Linked DNA regions of Homo sapiens: regions 2 and 3 are each linked to region 1. Evidence: fine-mapped expression QTL. A gene starts in region 1. Each other region holds a variant in brackets. All regions are shown on one strand. Distances are between the middles of the regions.

Region 1 (6,069 bases):
TTTTCATATAGAGACAGAGATAAAGACACAAAAAGGATGAGAATGATAAAGAAATGAGGTAAAATGTTAAGTACTGGGGAATCTGGGTGAAGAGAATGCAGGGATTCTTTATACTACTTTTGCCACTTTTCTTTTAGCTAGAAATTATTTCAAAACAAACAGCTTGGCCAAATTAGCAGGTAAGAAAAAATTATTAGTGTTTTTTATTTTATTTCATTCATGTGTTCAGTAAAGTTGAACACATGGATGTTAATGGACCATTCGGGTTATATGGTTCATATTTTTTGCTCATTTTTATGTCATGGTGTTTATCTTTTCTGTGCTGATTTGTAAAAGCTATTTTAAAACCCTTCATCTGCCATATATGTTACATTTCTTTCCTGCTTTCTGCCACCTTCCAATTTGTTACCAACTTTCTTCTCCAACCTTGGGCCACTGGCATATACACTCATTTTAAATATCAGAACTTGTAGTGCTCTTTGAAATGCAGACAGACTATGGTTCATTCTGCAACTGCATATTAGTTAACAGGCAAAAATACCTTAGTAAGAGAAAGTGTCTTTTCCTTCTAATGTAAAAAAAAAAAAAAACCTAACCCCCCCGAAGCACTAAGGTGTTTATTTGTTTATTTTTTTGAACAGGGTCTCACTCTGTTGCCCAGGCTGAAGTGCTGTGAATCACAGCTGACTGCAGCCTCGATCTCCTAGGCTCAACCCATCCTCCCACCTCTGCCTCCCAAGTAGCTGAGACTACAGGCATGTGTCACTACACCTGGCTTTTTTTTTTTCTTTTTTCTTTTTTTTTAGAGATGGGGTCTCCCTATGTTGACCAGGCTGGTCTGGAAGTCCTAGGCTCAAGTGATTCTCCTTTCTCCTGTCTCAGCCTCCCAAAGTGCTGGGATCATAGGCATGAGACACCATGCCTGGTCAGTTATTTAAGAAAATAAATATTAGACCATGCAGAAATAATGCTATCCTAAAATTTGTGAGCAAGTACAAAGTTCATGATTTAGAAATTTAAACAGTTTAAACGCAAAATGAAGTTCTTTTTAATGAATACCAAAAAACTGACTGAAAATCTAGTGAATACCTTTTATGCTTCAGACACCTCGTATAGAGAGTCTTTACCCTCAAGCATCTCGCAGTTGAGTAAGGGTGACATGTAAGAAATAGGTTACAATCATTGTGACAAGGACAACTGCAGTATTATTATGTACACACAAGGCAATGAACAGGCAGAAGTAAAGTTTTGTCATGAGGCAGGATGAGGCTATAGAAGAGGTGACAACTAAGCTAAAGAAGCCACTCAGGATGTCAGAAGACAGCTGTTCAGTCAAAAACAGGCACAGTATCCAAAGGAACTCATTTGATCCCTAAAATTCTGTTAAGATGTGCTGTAGGTGGGGCGCGGTGGCTCACGCCTGTAATCCCTGCACTTTGGGAGGCCGAAGTAGGTGGATCACCTGAGGTCAGGAGTTCAAGACCAGCCTGGCCAACATGGTGAAACCCCGTCTCTACTAAAAATACAAAAATTGGCTAACATGACGAAACCCTGTCTCTACTAAAAATACAAAAAAAAAAAAAAAAAAAAAAATTAGCCGGGCGTGGTGGTGTGTGCCTGTAGTCCCAGCTACTCTGTAGACTGAGGCACGAGAATCGCTTGAACCCAGGAAGCATAAGTTGCAGTGAGCCGAGATCGCACCACTGCACTCCAGTCTGGATGACAGAGCGAGACTTCGTGTCAAGTAATAATAATAAAAAAAGATGTGCTGTAATTGTCTCCGTTTTACAAAAGAGGTCAAGTAGTTGACACAGGTCCCACGCTAGTGAGGGTTTTGGGATTCAAGCACAGACCACCTTCGCCCCTATGCTACACCACCTCAGGCTGTCGGGAGATAGGCGCCCAGTCAAAAGGCACATGGAAGAAAGCCCACGACTTCTCAAGCATTGAAGCAGGAGTGGCGCATCGGTATTCTCAACTTCAAACTTTGAGAACAGTCATGGTAGGAATGCATTTTATTCAAGAATGGGTTCAGGTGAGGGTGGATATGGGCACTGGGTTCAAAGGACAAATTTGGAGAATTCATGATCCAGGAGAGTGAACAAATAAGGAAGGGCTAAAGAGATCCTCGAAGTTGAAAGGTTCAGAGTTAATGTCCTCTAAGGAGAGCCAACAAGGGGTTACAAATGCTGAAGTCATCAAGAAAATGTGCCTGTCTTTCCTTGAGACTGGGAAGGAGAATTAGGATGACGAAAATCCAGAGGATGGTAAAATAGCTTGACTTCAAAATAACAGGCCGGGCGCCGTGGCTCACGCCTGTAATTCCAGCACTGTGGGAGACCGGGGTGCGGGGGGGTGGATCACCTGAGCGCAGGAGTTCGAGACCAGCCTGGGTAACAGGGTGAAAACCCGTATTAAAAAAAAAAAAGCCGGGCGCGGTGGCCCACGCCTGTAATCCCAGCACTTTGGGAGGCCAAGGCGGGCGGATCACTTGAGGTCAGGAGTTCGAGACCAGCCTGGCCAACATGGTGAAACCCCATCTCTACTAAAAATAACAAAAATTAGCCGGACGTGATAGCGGGCACCTGTAGTTCCAGCTACTGGGGAGGCTGAGGCGGGAAAATCGCTTGAACCCAGGAGGCAAAGGTTGCACTGAGCCCAGACTGTCCCACTGCACTCCAGCCTGGGCAACAGAGCAAGACTCCGTCTCCAAAAAAAAAAAAAAAAAAAAAAAAGCAAGAAAAAGAAAGAGAATGGCGAGGCCCAGAGAGACCGAAAGTCCCACCAGAGGGTACAGAGCTAGCTCAGCCCTAATGCCGGCCCCGCGGTGCCTTTCCGAGCTCACGGCCTCCCCTCAGCATCCGGGTTTCGGCCTCGGAGCGCCAGGGACGCCACGAGGACGCGCCCCACACTTGCGCTTCTGGGTTCCAGCCCCCGCGGCCCCCAACAAATAAAGAAGGGAAAGTGCTGAGGGTGACGGCCCCGGGGAGCGCTGCGGCTCTACGTCAACCTGCGGCGGCCGCCGACTCATTTGGGGCCACGCTGGTTGCATTCGTCACGCCGGCGATGCCTCTCAAACCCGCGGCCTGCCGAGGACGTTCCCACACGGGAGACCCCAGCGACGCGGGCGCATCTGTGGCTCTCGAGAACCGGGCCGCGGAGCCGCCGCGAGCGCAAGCGAGGAATCGGCGACTGCGGGGGTGGACAGCTGGGGCTTGTAGTCCCCTCGCTACCCTCTATTCTGGAAGAGGCGGGTCGCGGCCGCTGAACTCCAGCTCTGCGCCTGCCCAGGCGGCCGCACGCTCAGGGGCGTGGCATGGGTGGGTCGTGAGTTGGGCGGGGCCCACAGGGCGTGCGCGACGCAGCGGCGCGGCGCGTGGCGTAAGGGGCGTGGCGCCAGTGGGCGTGGCGTGGCGCAGTGCGAAGGGACGCGGTGCGCATGCGCGTGAGGGCTGCCGCGGGTGGGTGGTATCGAGGCCTGTCGGGTCAGGGCGGTTCGCGGGTGCTGTCAGAGCTGGGCCGGGGCCCCTAGGCAGGGTAGCCGGGTCGTAGAGGCGGGGGCCGGTCGCGGTCGGTGGAGCGGGATGAGGATGTAGGAGGGGCGGACGTGGCGGAAGCCGCGGGGTCCGCGGGGTCGGTGCCTCTAGGGAGCCAGGGAGGCCTTTCCCGAGGCTCCTGGGGAAGAAGAGGCGAAGCGAGAGTCCCTGGGGAACCCCCACTCCACTCCCAGCTGGAGACTGGGTTGTGTCTGCATGGACCAGAGCCCACAGTGCGAGTTGCTATAGGCAACCAGCCAGGGTGGCCAGCTCCTTCCCGTTTGCCCGTGATGTTCTGGTTTTGGGACCAAAGCATCCTAGGCCTCCAGCCCACTGCAGTGACCGAATTCTGCGCCCCCTGCCCATCTTCTCCCGCAGCTTCCCTAGATTAGGCTTGGGAGGCAAGAGGAGGCCTCCTGACCTTTCACACTGCCTTTTTAATATTAAGATGAAGTCACACTCCACAACTTTCTTCCAGCCAGGCCCAGACATGTCCGTCCTTGTAAGTTAAAAGCTTCCATGGGAGCCTTCCTTCCTAATCAAGGTAGGTAGACTACAGGAAGGTACATCTTGTTTTATATTTTGTCCTGTAGAAGTCAGATTTCAGCCCAGTTGTGTAGGAGTGAGGATGAGCCTATGCTTATATCAGAGCTTTGAGTACAGAGACATTTGGTCTGGAATTTTAGTCAGCCTCTTCAACCCCAGAATTTATAGGTTCAATCAGAACAGACATTAGCTTAAGTTTTCCCATCAATCGTCTATCATTAAACTGGCAAAATCTAAATAATTAGAAAATATGACAAAGATGATCCAGACAGAGATGTTCAACTTTTTCCTTAATTCAAAAAGCCTCGTGGTGGAACATCGGACCCATTCAAGAGGAAGGATGAAAGCTCTATATAGGAACACGATGTGAATGGAAGAAACCTGTCATTGTGAGGCTGGCTTTTGATTAGTCATCTGATGTCTTCCCTAATGTGACATGACTTTGAGGCCATAAACTTCAGTGGCTAAGCTGTAGTTTCTCAGCCTGCAGTTAAATTGCAGAAATGATAGGGCTTACATTAGTTTTGTTTTTATTTGATGTTGAAGATCTTTGAGTCACATTAGAAACGATGAGTATTTTTCATGTGGCACTGATGAGTTAATTCATATTATTATTTTTTGAGACAGAGTCTCTATTGCCCAGGCTGGACTGCAGTGGCACGATCACGGCCCACTGCAGCCTCGACCTCCTGGGCTCAGATGATCCTCCCATCTTAGCCTGCCAAGTAGCTGGGACTACAAGTGCACATCACCACATCCGGCTAATTTTTTTGTAGATATGGGGTTTTGCCATGATGTCGAAGCTGATTTCAGACTCCTAGGCTCAAGTAATCCTTCTGCCTTGGCCTCCCAAAGTGCTGGGATTATAAGCGTGAGCCACTGTGCCAGGCCAATATTATTCCCCAAAAGAAGGAAGTTGGGTGTGAGGTCCTGCTCCTGTGGTCACCGTGAGGTTTTTTTTTTTTGTTTTGGACTCTTGCCCAGGCTGGAGTGCAGTGGCACAGTCATGGCTCACTGCAGCCTCAAGCTCCTGGGCTCAAGTGATTCTCCTGTCTCAGCCTCCCTGGTAGCTAGGACCACAGATGTGCACAACTATGCCCAGGGAATTTTTAAATTTTTTGTAGAGACAGGGTCTCACCATGTTGCCTGAGCTGTTCTCAAACTCCTGGCCTCAAGCAATCCTCCTATCCCAAAGTGCTGAAATTACAGGCATGAGCCACCACACCTGGCCACCACTAGTTTTTGTAATGGGAGCAGGTTCCATATGAGATGGAGGAATGGATTTCATGATTGTCTTTTTAATTTCTTAGATCTCCAAGAAATTGGACATGAGGAAACCACTCTAAGTGTGACCACTCTAAAGCATTAGCAATCAGTCATTTCACTCTAGGGAGAAATCAGAGCTGAAATATAGAGGATAGGTAAAGTCCCCAATGTAGATATGTATTTTTATATTTGATTACTTGCTTTTTTTTGTTAGATGCAAATAATACGGCACTCCGAACAGACACTAAAAACAGCTCTCATCTCAAAGAACCCAGTGCTTGTATCACAGTATGAGAAATTAAATGCTGGGGAACAACGTTTAATGAATGAAGCCTTCCAGCCAGCCAGTGATCTCTTTGGACCCATTACCTTGCATTCTCCATCAGATTGGATCACCTCCCACCCTGAGGCTCCCCAAGACTTTGAACAGTTCTTCAGTGATCCTTACAGAAAGACACCCTCTCCAAACAAACGCAGCATTTATATACAGTCCATTGGTAAATACTGGTAATGTGCTGGTTTTGGTTCAGTTTTGCAGTGGCGCTCTTGTCAGGAATAGTCCAGGCTATGGGTCTGATTCAGATGGGCCGTTTTAGGATCGTTTTTGATATTCATTGCGGCGGTACAAGTTTTGTAGCCAAACTGACTTAAAAGATAACATTTTGTTTCTTTTTGTTTCATAGCAACACCAATGAATGATAAAGGTTATTGAAAATTTAGA
Region 2 (6,069 bases), 25 kb after region 1:
TTTCACTTGAGTTCACTTTAGGTTTTTTTTTTTTTTTTTTAGACAGAGTTTTATTCTTGTTGCCCCAGGTGGAGTGCGATGGTGCAATCTCAGGTCACTGCAACCTCTGCCTCCCAGGTTCAAGCGATTCTCCTGCCTCAGCCTCCCGAATAGCTGGGATTAGAGGTGTCTGCCACCATGCCCAGCTACTTTTGTATTTTTAGTAGAGATGGGGTTTTGCCATGTTGGCCAGGCTGGTCTGGAACTCCTGACCTCAAATGATCCGCCCGCCTCATCCTCCCAAAGTGTTGGGATTAGAGGCATGAGCCACTGCGCCCGGCCCGTTTTAGGTATCTTTTGACAGGGGGTACGATTTCTAATCACAAACACTTTAAAGACCCATTTGGGATCTAAGATATGAAACATACCTATGTCCCTCCTACAAGGAAATATTCTGTACAAATCAGTTAGGTATTTACAGAGTGCTGCTATCCATTCCCAAATACCTTTCCTAAGAAAGGAAGATGACTTACAGAAGTCCATTAGTTCTATCATTCCAAAAGTCAGGTGGGCTCTGAAGGTGATAAATCCATGAGTTCTTGCCTAGCATGAGAGAAGGCAAGGTGACAGAAAAAGCCTGGGTTGGCGGGTGCGGTGGCTCACACCTGTAATCCTAGTACTTTGGGAGGCCAAGGCAGGCGGATCACGAGGTCAAGAGATTGAGACCATCCTGGCCAACATGGTGAAACCCCATCTCTACTAAAAATACAAAAATTAGCCAGGCGTGGTGGTGGGTGCCTGTAGTCCCAGCTACTCAGGAGGCTGAGGCAGGAGAATCACTTGAATCTGGGAGGTGGAGGTTGCAGTGAGCTGAGACTGCGCCACTGCACTCCAGCCTGGGTGATAGAGCGAGACTCCATCTCAAAAAAAAAAAAAAAAGGCCAGGGTCAATCTGGACTACAGACACAGCTTCCAGTCCTGAATCGACCACTAATTTACCATCTGACCTTTAGCTTCAATTCTTTGGCCTTCAGTTTCCTCATATTTAAATCAAGAGGGCTGGCTCAGGTAATCTCTAATCCCTGGCAGCTCTAAAATTCAATGGAAATATAAAACGGCAGTAAGTTTTTTTTATGGCTTGAACAGGAAGCTAGCACAATTCACAAGGGAAAGTAGACAAGTGTTTGTATTTTGTGTATTTAAATTACCTGCAAGGGGCGGTCCAGCCAGTCCTGCTATGCTCTGAATGAAGATGTAGACCCCAGCTGCAGAAGACATCTTCTCAATGCCCACGACATCATCCTCAGCAAGCAGTGGAATGTGAGTCCCTCCTATTGTTCCAACCATAAACCCAAAAAATATGCTGCATGACATTAGACCCCAGAATTCAGTAGCAAAAGTAAAGGCAAACAGAGACACAGTCAATAAGATGACGCAGATGAGCTCAATGTAAATCTTACGAATGGGCTCCCTGTTGAGGACAAAACCAGCTCCGATCCTTCCGAAAACTTCTGCAATGGCCATCGTAGATAATAAAAAAGCAGCGCGGTCCTGGTCAATGCCCAGACTAATGCCCAGAGGAATGATGTACAAGGAAGGTGCAAAGAATCCCAGTGTTGCAAAGAGACCAAATAATGCATAACAAATAAAACTTTTCTCTTTCAAAATGGAGAAGTCTAATAGCGGGGCTTTCTTTTCGCTTGGCCTGGGGCTGGTCTTCACCAGGACCTGCTGCATGTCGGCCTTCGGCTCCAGTTCCAGGTTAGTGTGAGTAGGCACATTTTTAGGTGAGGTAGTTAGTTCTACTCCTGAGTCAATGGAGTCTATTGAGGTTCGTGTTTTCTCATTTTCAAGCATATACTGCGCTTCTTTCCGATTTTCCTGGATGACTATTTTCGGTGACGCTGGTCCTCTGATAAAGATGGGTCTGAGCAGTGCTCCGAAGATGACAATGTTTAACTGTAGTAGGCCCACGAAGAGGAGGCTGTATCTCCAGCCAATGCGCTCCTTCAGAGCCATGATTGCTTGAATAGGCAGGAGTGAAGAAGAAATAATATAAGGTCAATAATGGACTCAAGACCCAGGAGAAGCCATCAAGAAGAAATATGGATCCAGATTTTGTTATAAGTTCTGTGGAAATTTATTATACTCAGCAGTATGAATGTACTCAATCTTTATTTATTTACTTTTTGAGACAGAGTCTCACTCTGTCACCAGGCTGGAGTGCAGTGGCCTGATCTCAGCTCACCGCAACCTCCACCTCCCGGGTTCAAGCGATTCTCCTGCCTCAGCCTCCTGAGTAGCTGGGACTATAGGCGTGCGCCACCACGACCAGCCAATTTTTGTATTTTTAGTAGAGACAGGGTTTCACTGTGTTGGCCAGGATGGTCTCGATCTCCTGACCTCCTGATCTGCCTGCCTCGGCCTCTCAAAGTACTGGGATTACAGGCATGAGCCACTGCACCTGGCCTTTTTTTGTGTGTTTTAAGTAGAGACAGGTTTTTGCCATGTTGGCCAGGCTGGTCTCGATCACCTGACCTCAGGTGATCCGCCCACCTCAGCCTCCCAAAGTGCTGGGATTACAGGTGTAAGCCACCGTGCTCAGTTACAGATTTTGTTTTGAGATGATCTACACACAGATAAGAATGCTGTGTTTATTAGCATAATCTAAATCCACATTGAATGTAGCTCTTTTGAAAAACGAGAGGACATAACAGGTGAATAATTGCAAATTACTAGATTATTCTGGAATGCATGTGTCAAGAAAGCCCTACCACTGCATATGTGCCCAGTTAGGAATTGAAACCTATTATTAAGGTGGTCTGAATACCTAAAGTGGGGGTTAGGGAGGACAGATCCTAAAAATGAGCTGGAGAAGAGACGTAAATAACGTCTCATTACACATACACTGAAAGTCATCCATACTGTTGGCAAAAGTTAGCGTAGCAAGAATACCTGAGTGACGTCTCTCATCCACATTCATACTTAGGCTGTTGTAGTCCACCTACCTGGTGCGAAAGCAAACACAGCGAAACATTCTCCTGTGGAAGCAACTGCAGTGACTATGGAACGTCTTTTGCCAAAATATTGTGATAGGATGGTTACAGTTGGGAGAAAACTAAAGCAGTATCCCAGACCTGTGAAAGAAAAGTCAAAAAAGCCAATGAGACCCACATACTGCTTGAGACTGGAAGGATGCATTAAAAGATCTGGGATTTTTGGTTTTGCTTTTTGAATCTTAAGTTCTAGGAGCCAAGTAATTCATTCTGGACAAAGGTGATGTTGCAAAGAAAAATGGGTTTCATTAACGGTCTGGATAAACTTCAGTGGTTGTTTGGGATACTAAAAATATAACTTTTTTTTTTTTTATCTTTGCAACACTTTTTTTCAAATTTATATAATTCACAATGGATGAAACTATTATTGCATGAAATTTTATATAAGATTTGTATCTAGAAAGAAATAAGTCATTTCATATGTGCAGAAATACAGGAAAAATTTAAAGTCTGCAAATCTTAACAACTGTGTGTGTATCTATCATCTATGAGGAATATATGGCCTCCTTTTATTGTTCATTTCATTTTTTTTTTTTTAAACAGACAGGGTCTCACTCTGTTGCCCAGGCTGGAGTGCAGTGGTGTGATCACAGCTCACTGGAGCCTTGACCTCCCAGGCTCAAGTGATCCTCCCACCTCAGCCTCCAAAGTGATAGGATGGTTACAGCTGGGACCACAGGCA[C/T]GCACCACCACGCTTGGCTAGTTTTTATTTTTTGTAGAGATGGAGTCTCCCTATGTTGCCCCAGTTGGTCTCAAACTGCTGGGCTCACGTGATCCTCCTGTCTCAGCCTCCCGAAGTGCTGGGATTACAGGCATGAGCCACCATGCTGGCTACTCCTTTTGAATGGAAAAAGGTTTTCTTAGGCCCCCAAGAATAAGTCTGGCATGTTGCACTTCCCCTACAGCCCTGGATCCTCAGACACTGATGTGAGAAATACTGGCTACAGAAATTCGTCTTACTTTGTAAAAATGCTATCTTTTGGCTGCAAATACAGCAAAAGAGAAATTATCATCATCTTTGGTGAAGATCAAACAAAAACCCTTGGGCACTTGAGAACAGATTCCCAGGTCCCCTGAAGTCCATATAGCTCAGTTCAAAACTACTGATCTGAGACACTGTTAATGTTAAAGAAAAAAAGAAAGAGAAAGAAATATAGTTTGGCTTTAATTTCCTCCTTCCCCTTCCTTGTTCTTCAAACTAAGTGTCTAGACAACTTCTGAGCCAAAGAGGAACACTTACCAGAGATGATGCCGATGGCGACGTACATATGAGAAACCTCTTGTGAGAAGGAGGCGGCCACCATCCCGGTGCTGACAAGTAGCCCCCCCAACATCACTACCAGACGGTGTCCGAAACGATTGCTCAGGACTGTGGCGAGGGGAGCTGCCGGGAAAGAACAAAACGATATTTTAACTCACAGAGGCTTCAGGGTTAGCTGCCATAAGACTCCTTCCTCCACGTCTTGCACATGGAGAGATGATGTCGAATATAAATATGGCCGAGCGCAGTGGCTCATGCCTGTAATCCCAGCACTTTGGGAGGTTGAGGACGGAGGATCGCTTGAGCCCAGGAGTTCAAGACTAGCCCGGGCAACATGGTGAAACCCCGTCTCTACAAAAAATACAAAAATTAGCCAGGCATGGTGGTGTGCACCTGTAGTCCCAGCTACTTGGCAGGCAGAGATGGGAGGATTGTTTGAGCCTGGGAGGCAGACGATGCAGTGAGCCAAGATTGCACCACTGCACTCCATACTGGGTGACAGAGTGAGACCCTGTCTCAAGAAAAAACAAAACCAAACCATAACACATTTCATGCAAAGTCAGTGCAGGAATTATTTTACTATTTGTTCAAATTCAACACGATTTGTCAGACTCCTGAAAGAGAAAGCCAGAATAACAGTATAAAACTTTTATCTATATTTTTAGATGACTCTGACTCACCATGAGCACCTATAAAATTAGATATGTATTGAATTTATGTTATTCTATAATAAAAATTGGTTTTCCTATGATTGCTTGAATTATTTTTTCTCTACTCACTACTTTGGATTCTTTTTAAAAAGCTCCATTTGGGGTCAGATTCTAGTTAGTTTCTTTCTTTTTTTTTTTTTGAGATGGAGTTTTGCTCTTGTTTTCTAGGCTGGAGTGCAGTGGTGTGATCTCGGCTCACTGCAACCTCCACCTCCTGGGTTCAACTGATTCTCCTGCCTCAGCCTCCCAAGTAGCTGGGATTACAGGCATGTGCCACCATGCCCGGCTGATTGTGTATTTTTAGTAGAGATGGGGTTTCTCCATGTTGGTCAGGCTGGTCTCGAACTACTGACCTCAGGTGATCCGCCCACCTCGGCCTCCCAAAGTGTTGGGATTACAGGCGTGAGCCACCGCGCCCAGCCTAGTTAGTTTCTTGACAGGATGAAAGAATGTGAATTCTAAGTTATGCACTCCTGAAGGAGAGTTGCTATGGGATAGATAATTGAAAGTGAATCATCATTTGCTTAGCTTCTATAAGCTGTATCCCCTAGGACATTTAAATCTGGCAAATTAGTTTCCTAGTTATAGGTTACTTAATATTAACTTGACAACAGTGACGTAAGTGAGCCATTGAGAGTTGGGTCAAGGAACAACAACATGCTAGAAAAGGAAGTGGGAAAAAAAGGATTCCATTTTTTTGGGTTAGTCTATATGTATCTACTATGTTAACTATTAGAATACAAAGTAATCTTGGATGTAGCTCATAATAAAACCACTCTCATCATTTTGAGCCAGGATGTTGGCTCAAAGCATTAACAACTAGAATAATAGCATTTGGAAGAATTATCTTCTGGTATAATAGTATTAAGTGGAAATTTCTTGTTGACTACATTTTTATTTTTAGTTATAAAAGACCTAAAACTTAAGCTTTGGGATTTTCTTTTTATTTAGATTACCAAATGTAACATTTTAGTCCTAATTCATTTGTTATCTTTCTAAGAAGGTAATTAAGCATTCCACAATTTAAAAATGAAGTTATCTTGGCTGGGTGCGGTGGCTTACA
Region 3 (6,069 bases), 51 kb before region 1:
ACATATAGGTTGATTCCATATCTTGACTATTAGGAATAATGCTATATAATAAGTATGGGGGTGTGGCTATCCCTTTGGTATACTAATTTCATGTCCTTTGGTTATTTTTAAATACTATTTAATATGCACCTTTCTTTTTATCAGAAAATACATGAAGTAGTAAATAAAATAATCTCATCTCTATTTTGGCTTTTGAGGAAGTGGCAAAAATATAGTTATAATTTGGAATTATTTGACTCCAATTATTTTGATCTTAAACTAATAAGTTGCTTTTCTGGTTTATTCATGAAAATGTCAATGAAATATTTAATAATGTGTATCTGTGTATTTATATAAGGCTCGTAATATCCTATAGCCCTTGAAAGCCAATATGGCTCACTTACTTTGCCATTTTTAAGTTGTCTTTTTATTAATGATTTGTAGAAAAACTATATGTCCTGGATAGAAGTCACTTGTCAGGTATGCATATAGTACAAATAATTTTTTTCTGTCTCTGGCTTTTTATTTTTTTGATATTTATTTACTTATTTAGAGACTTCGCTCTGTTGCCAGGCTGGAGAGCAGTGGCACCATCTCGGCTCACTGCAAGCTCTGCCTCCCATGTTGAAGCGATTCTCCTGCCTCAGCCTCCCGAGTAGCTGAGACTACAGGCATCTGCCACCATGCCCAGCTAATGTTTTTTGTTTTTGTTTTTGTATTTTTTGTATTTTTAGTAGAGACAGGGTTTCGCCATGTTGGCCAGGATGGTCTCAATCTCCTGACTTCATGATCTGCCCACCTCGGCCTCCCAAAGTGCTGGAATTACAGGCGTCAGCCACCGCGCCCGGCCACCTTTTTATTTTTTCCACGTATTTTGATGAGCAAAAGTTTACAATGTTAATACAATCAATTTATCATTCTAAAACACATTTTGTAGGTGTTGTGCCTTCTTTAGGAAACATTTGCATATTCCAAAGTCAGAAGTAATTTCTCCAATGCGTTCTTCTAGAAGACATACAGTTATTTAGCCCTCTGTTTAGGCTTATTATCCACTCAGTTAATTTTTGCATTTCATGGAAGGTTGGTTTATTTTTTTAATATATGGAAATATAGTTCGGCACCATGTGGCAACTCTTTCTTTTACCCATAGATTTGCTTGGCATCTTATCAAAAGTAAATTAAACATATATGTGTGTATGTCTAGTTCGGTAATCTCTATTCTATGCTATTGGTCTATTTTTCTTTCCTTAGCCAATACTAGTGTCTCCTGATAGTGTATATTTATATTAAAACTTGAGGTTCTGTAAAACAAATCCTCCAGTTTCTTAGTCTTTATGAAAATTGTCCTGACTATTCTAGATCCTTTGCGTATACATATAAATCTTAGAATTCACCTGTCAATTTATTTTAAAAATTCTACCAGAATTTTAATTCAGCCTCTTTTGATATTTGCCAAATATTTGCCAAGGAGTTACTTGCCAAAATATCTCTTTCCTTTCCTTTTACAGTTACACGTATGGTAGACTCAGAATTCTCCTACTGGTCACTGAGGCTCTGTTCATTTTAGTTCAACCATTTGTTAAACTTTTAAACCATTTTTTTAACTTATAAAGCAAAGAAATCATTTAATTTTCAAGTCAAGTTTCCTTGATTTGAGCTCAAATAATAGCTCAAATCAAATAGCTGATGGCGGGTGCCTGTAATCCCAGCTACTCAGGAAGCTGAGGCAGGAGAATCACTTGAACCCAGAGGTGGAGGTTGCAGTGAGCTGAGATTGTGCCACCGCACTCCAGCCTGGGCAACAGAGCGAGACTCCGTCTCAAAAAAAAAAAAAAAAAAAAAAAAGGCTGATATATGGTGTGCGCTAGGCATGTGGTAAGCACTGCTTAGTGGACCTCATTTAATCTTCCCAATAATCCAGTGAGGTGGGTGTTACTATCCCGTTGATAGGAAAGAAAGCTGAGCTGCAGAGATAAGGCAGAACTCCCAAGGCCTACCAGGCAGCAGAGTGGGGCATCATACATGCCTGACCCCACGCAAAGACCATCACTACTGCCAGCCGCTGCCTGGCTGTGTGCAGGTGGGGAGAGACCTAAAAGGTAGGGAGGGAGAGAAGATTCCTCCAGTCACTATTTTCTAAGCAGGTCAATGCTTAGACCAATGCTGAGTTCTGCTGTGTGCCCACCCTGGAGGGTCCCAAGGTGCCACCAGGTCTCAGACACACTGAGATTCTCAGAGTAAGTGTGGATTCAACGGGTGGGCAACGCCTAGCGGGGGCAAACATATAGAGATAAGGGAGTTCCAGAACGAGTGTGGCCAGATTCAGCTTCCCACCCAACCTTGGACCCCCAGGAGGTGGTGTCAAGAGGGGCCATGGCCTGGGGTGCGGGCGTCTCTTCCTCCCAGAACACTAGCCTGAATCAGCCAGCTCTGCGCACACACAGCCAGGTCCACAGGCACAACAATTTCCTGGGGCCCCTGAGGGCAGGGG[G/T]TCTGCTGGGGCTGGGGCTTGTGATGTGTGGAGTGAGCGCAGGCTCAGATCAGGGCAAGGCAGCTTGTCCAGAGAGGCAGATAATTCCCAAACAGAAGACCTCCAAGGCAGAGGGCCCTGGGGCTGGACTCCTGGCCTCCAGGAGGTTGTTCTGAGCTTACCCTGTGGACGGATTGGAGGGTGGCCCTCTTTCCCCACAAGGATCAAGAGGGACTGGGGGATGGTGGGAAGGCAATCTGGCCAGGAGAAGCTGCGGGGGAGACTCCCGCCATCCCCAGTCCCACCATCTCAGCCCCGCGGCCTCTTCCTCCCTGGAGACAGCCAGGTGTGGCCCAGGATCCCGGGAAGTGCAGCAGGGGAGGGGGTGGCGTCTTCGCTCCTCAGGCGCTGGCCCGGCGCCAGGAAGCCAGTGCGCCGGGGATTGTCTCTGTCAACTGCAGCCCAGACCCAGTCCGGGAAGTTCTGCCAGGCGCTCTCCGCCGGTGCCTCCCTGGTTATACTGTTATACAGGAAACCTGGCAGCGCGGGAGCCGCGCGGTCGAGGAGGGAGCGCGGAACGCCGAGCCCACGCGCGCCTGCCGGGGCAAGTGGAGGCGAGGCCGGCGAGCGGACGCCCCGAGCTGCCCGGGCAGGCAGGGTCGGGAGTGAGGCGCCGAGCGGGGGTTGAGGTGGGAAGTGGGGTTAGGGGTGGGGGTAGGGGGTGGGGAAGGGGACAGGGTGGGGGAGGAAAGGGTGCGGCAGGTGGCTGGTCCGCACCTGGGAGCTCCGCGCGCCTGCTCCCCTTAGTTCCGCGCTGGGGCAGGATCTGCGCGGGCCGCATCCCACGCGAAGGAGAAGGTAGGCGAAGGGCTGCCCTCCATTGGGCTGGAGGGCAGCAGGGAGGCCCCCAACGCCCACCCAGGCGTTGACGCCTCTGTATCTTGCGTCGCCTGGGCGGTGGACGCAGGAGACCTCCTGGCGACTGGTGCGCTCCTGCGCTCCAGGGATCCTCCCGGCACCCCGCCCCCCCCACCAATCTCTCTCCTTCTCTGTGTGCCCCCAGGTCGGGGAAGGAGCCGTGGCCGGGTCCCCTTCTTATCCAGCCCGAGACACCGCGCCTGGTGGGCGTCCCTGCGCTGGGAATCCCGCTCGGAGTTTTTCCAAGCCCGGCCGGGCTGTGCGGGGAAAGGCCCTGGTGAGGGAGGCGGGCCCGGAGCTGGCGGTCTGCAGTCCGGTTGGAAGTGCTCGCAGTGGGGGATTCAGGGTGCAAATGATCTCCCCGCGAGCGGGAACGCCCGGACAAGACAACCAGCCCCAGCCCAGCATTCCCAGAGCCGCGTGCGGGAGGGACGCAGGGACGCAGGGACAGCAAATCCCCAGGTGAGGGGAGAAGGGGGAAGGCCGGGCAGGGGCGGCCCCACCCTCCTTGGGTTCTGCTAGCGATCAGCCAGCACCCCTTCAGACGCAGCCCTCCCGGCTCCAGGCCCCGGCCTTCTGCTTCGGGCCTTGTCTTCCCCATGCCCCCAAGGTCCCCAGCAGAGGCCTTCTGGCCCCTCCTCGCCCCGCCCAGACACAGCTGCTTTGGGTATCGGTGACAGCACTCCTGAGTGTCCCTGTCCCTCTTAGCTCCCGTTGCCAGCTCCGGTTCCGTGCAGCCTCTCCGGCTTCGCCCCTGGAAGCCACGCCCAGGGCGATGGTCGGGGCCTAACCTGCCGGCTCGGCCCCCCCCGGCCCTTGGGCTCCCTGAGGCCCGCCCAGCCGACGTGAGTGCGCTGCGGGGTCCATGGGGAAGGGGCGCCGGGGCAGTGTCCTCCTTGGGGTTTGTTGGTCCAGCTCTGGGCAGCTCGATGACCCCGCCTCCGGGACCCAGTGTGCTTAGTGACTCAGTTTACACTTTTTCCTCGTCGAGGAACGCTTGAGAAAGTGGCGAAGGAGCCCTACGGGGGGCCTGGTTGGACCCTGCTCCTTCAGTCCCTCAGCCTCGGCAAGCGGCGGTCTCCTGGCCCCTGGTCCGGGTCACCTTAGGAGGCAGGAGGAGATGTGGTCAGTGTGGGAGCTTGGAGGGGCCATGCACTTCCGGAGAAGACCACCGACTCGTGGCTTTGGTGGAGGGGTGCAGGCAGATTTAGTTAGGCTCTCCCCCATCCCTGACACACTGGAGCCGGGGCGGGAGCGGGGCTTGTGACCACTCCGGAGAGCTTTGGGGGCCCCTGCTCTGGGACTCCGCACGGATAGTCACTGTCTCAGAGTGCATTCTCCAGGGGCCACTCTCGTGGAGGCATCCGGGGGGTCCCAGGGCAGGTGGGCAGCCTTTTTCGGGGGGGGTGCGGTGTGAGAGCCGGAGAGCAGGGGGCGGGGCGGGCCCGGCTGGGGCTCACGTCTGCGTTGAAGCCTCTGGGGAAGGAGAGAGAAACCAAGAGAACCGGTTCCCCCGCCTTGACAGCGGAGGCCCTCACACCGAGGCCCTTGGACTAAACCGGGCAGGGACAGCCCGCAGGTAAAGCTGTTCTCCGGGGCGTCTGCAGAGCCCGCATCCCAACCCTGACCCAGGGGCCGGGGCGCAGGCTCCTGGAGGGAGGCGGTGCTACGGGACTCTGCGGATTCTCTGCGGGCGGGAGGCGTCCAGGCGGGACAGGGCCCGGGGAGCGGCTGGCAATGGGCTGCTCTTCCCACTTGACTGATGGAAAACTAAGGCTCAGTCACCTGAGTAAGCGTGGTGTCGACCTCAGAGCGGGCAATCACCCCTCGTTTTAAAACCAAAGTTTCCCTCGCAGTCGATTTGGACCAAGACTACCCACAATCTCCCCACCGCAGGACTGAAGCGAGGCTGAAATCTTAGAATCAACCCCACGGAATGAAGAGGTTGTCGTAATTCCAGCACTGAGTGTAAGAATGGAAGCCTTACATGTGATTTTATTCAAGTCCCCATTTTAGAAATGGAAAAACTCAGGCCCGAAGGCGAACGGCGAATGCAGCATCGGGACTCGAACCCAAGTCTGTCCCCGAGTGCGGGGCTATTCCAGGCTCGGTGGTCTTGACCTCCACGGCCCTCCTCCTTGTTGCCTGCAGAAAAACGCCGCGGCCACGATGCCGGCGTATGTGGAGGGGGATGTCTACCTGGTGGTGGAGCACCCCTTCGAGTATACCCGCAAGGACTGGCGCCGCGTGGCCATCTGGCCCAATGAGCGCTACTGGCTGCTGCGGCGCAGCACGGAGCACTGGTGGCACGTGCGGCGCGAGCCTGGCGGCCACCCCTTCTACCTGCCCGCGCAGTACGTGCGCGAGCTGCCTGCGCTGGGCAAATGACCTCCCCGCGAACGGGAACGCCCGGACGAGACAACCTGCCACTGCCGCGCCGCCAGGTCCCCCCAACAGTCCCCTCGGCCCCCGAGCCGCTCACCTACGACTACCGGCTTGTGAGCGCGGCGGCGGCAGCGGGCCCCGACAGCACCCCCGCGGAGCCCCGAGGCCGCGCCAGCTCCCTGTGCGGCCCTTCGCAACGCGGCGCCGCGACCCAGCGCAGCAGCCTGGCGCCCGGCCTGCCCGCCTGCCTGTACTTGCGGCCTGCGCAGTCCCTGGACTACCTGGCGCGCGCCGCCGTCTCGCCTCCCGCCGGCCAC

The links. PIP is the estimated chance that this variant, and not a neighbour inherited with it, causes the effect. A credible set is the group of variants that fine-mapping cannot tell apart.
Region 2: its variant is the best candidate, but not a certain one, in a credible set for the expression of AMZ2 in whole blood (TOPMed, PIP 0.70).
Region 3: its variant is the best candidate, but not a certain one, in a credible set for the expression of AMZ2 in whole blood (INTERVAL, PIP 0.85).

Annotation. Positions count from the first base shown.
Region 1 is chr17:68,244,626-68,250,694 of GRCh38, forward strand. It overlaps AMZ2 (archaelysin family metallopeptidase 2), which reads left to right and starts at 3,418. Exons shown (of 7, transcript NM_016627.5): 1 at 3,418-4,080; 2 at 5,563-5,845. The coding sequence starts at 5,563. RefSeq lists enhancers at 1,938-2,484, 2,485-3,030 and silencers at 3,245-3,544, 4,854-4,903.
Region 2 is chr17:68,269,652-68,275,720 of GRCh38, forward strand. SLC16A6 (solute carrier family 16 member 6) reads right to left here. Exons shown (of 6, transcript NM_004694.5): 3 at 4,276-4,419; 4 at 2,988-3,116; 5 at 1,188-2,003. It also overlaps a transcript of ARSG not described here. Among named protein-coding and RNA genes, the nearest start is that of SLC16A6, 18 kb to the right of the region's middle. The variant C/T (reference allele first, on the strand shown) is at 3,718.
Region 3 is chr17:68,193,385-68,199,453 of GRCh38, forward strand. LOC105371870 (a long non-coding RNA gene) reads left to right here. Exons shown (of 4, transcript XR_934937.4): 4 at 1-1,292. It also overlaps the pseudogene ARHGAP27P2. Among named protein-coding and RNA genes, the nearest start is that of AMZ2, 52 kb to the right of the region's middle. RefSeq lists silencers at 5,908-5,997, 6,028-6,069. The variant G/T (reference allele first, on the strand shown) is at 2,471.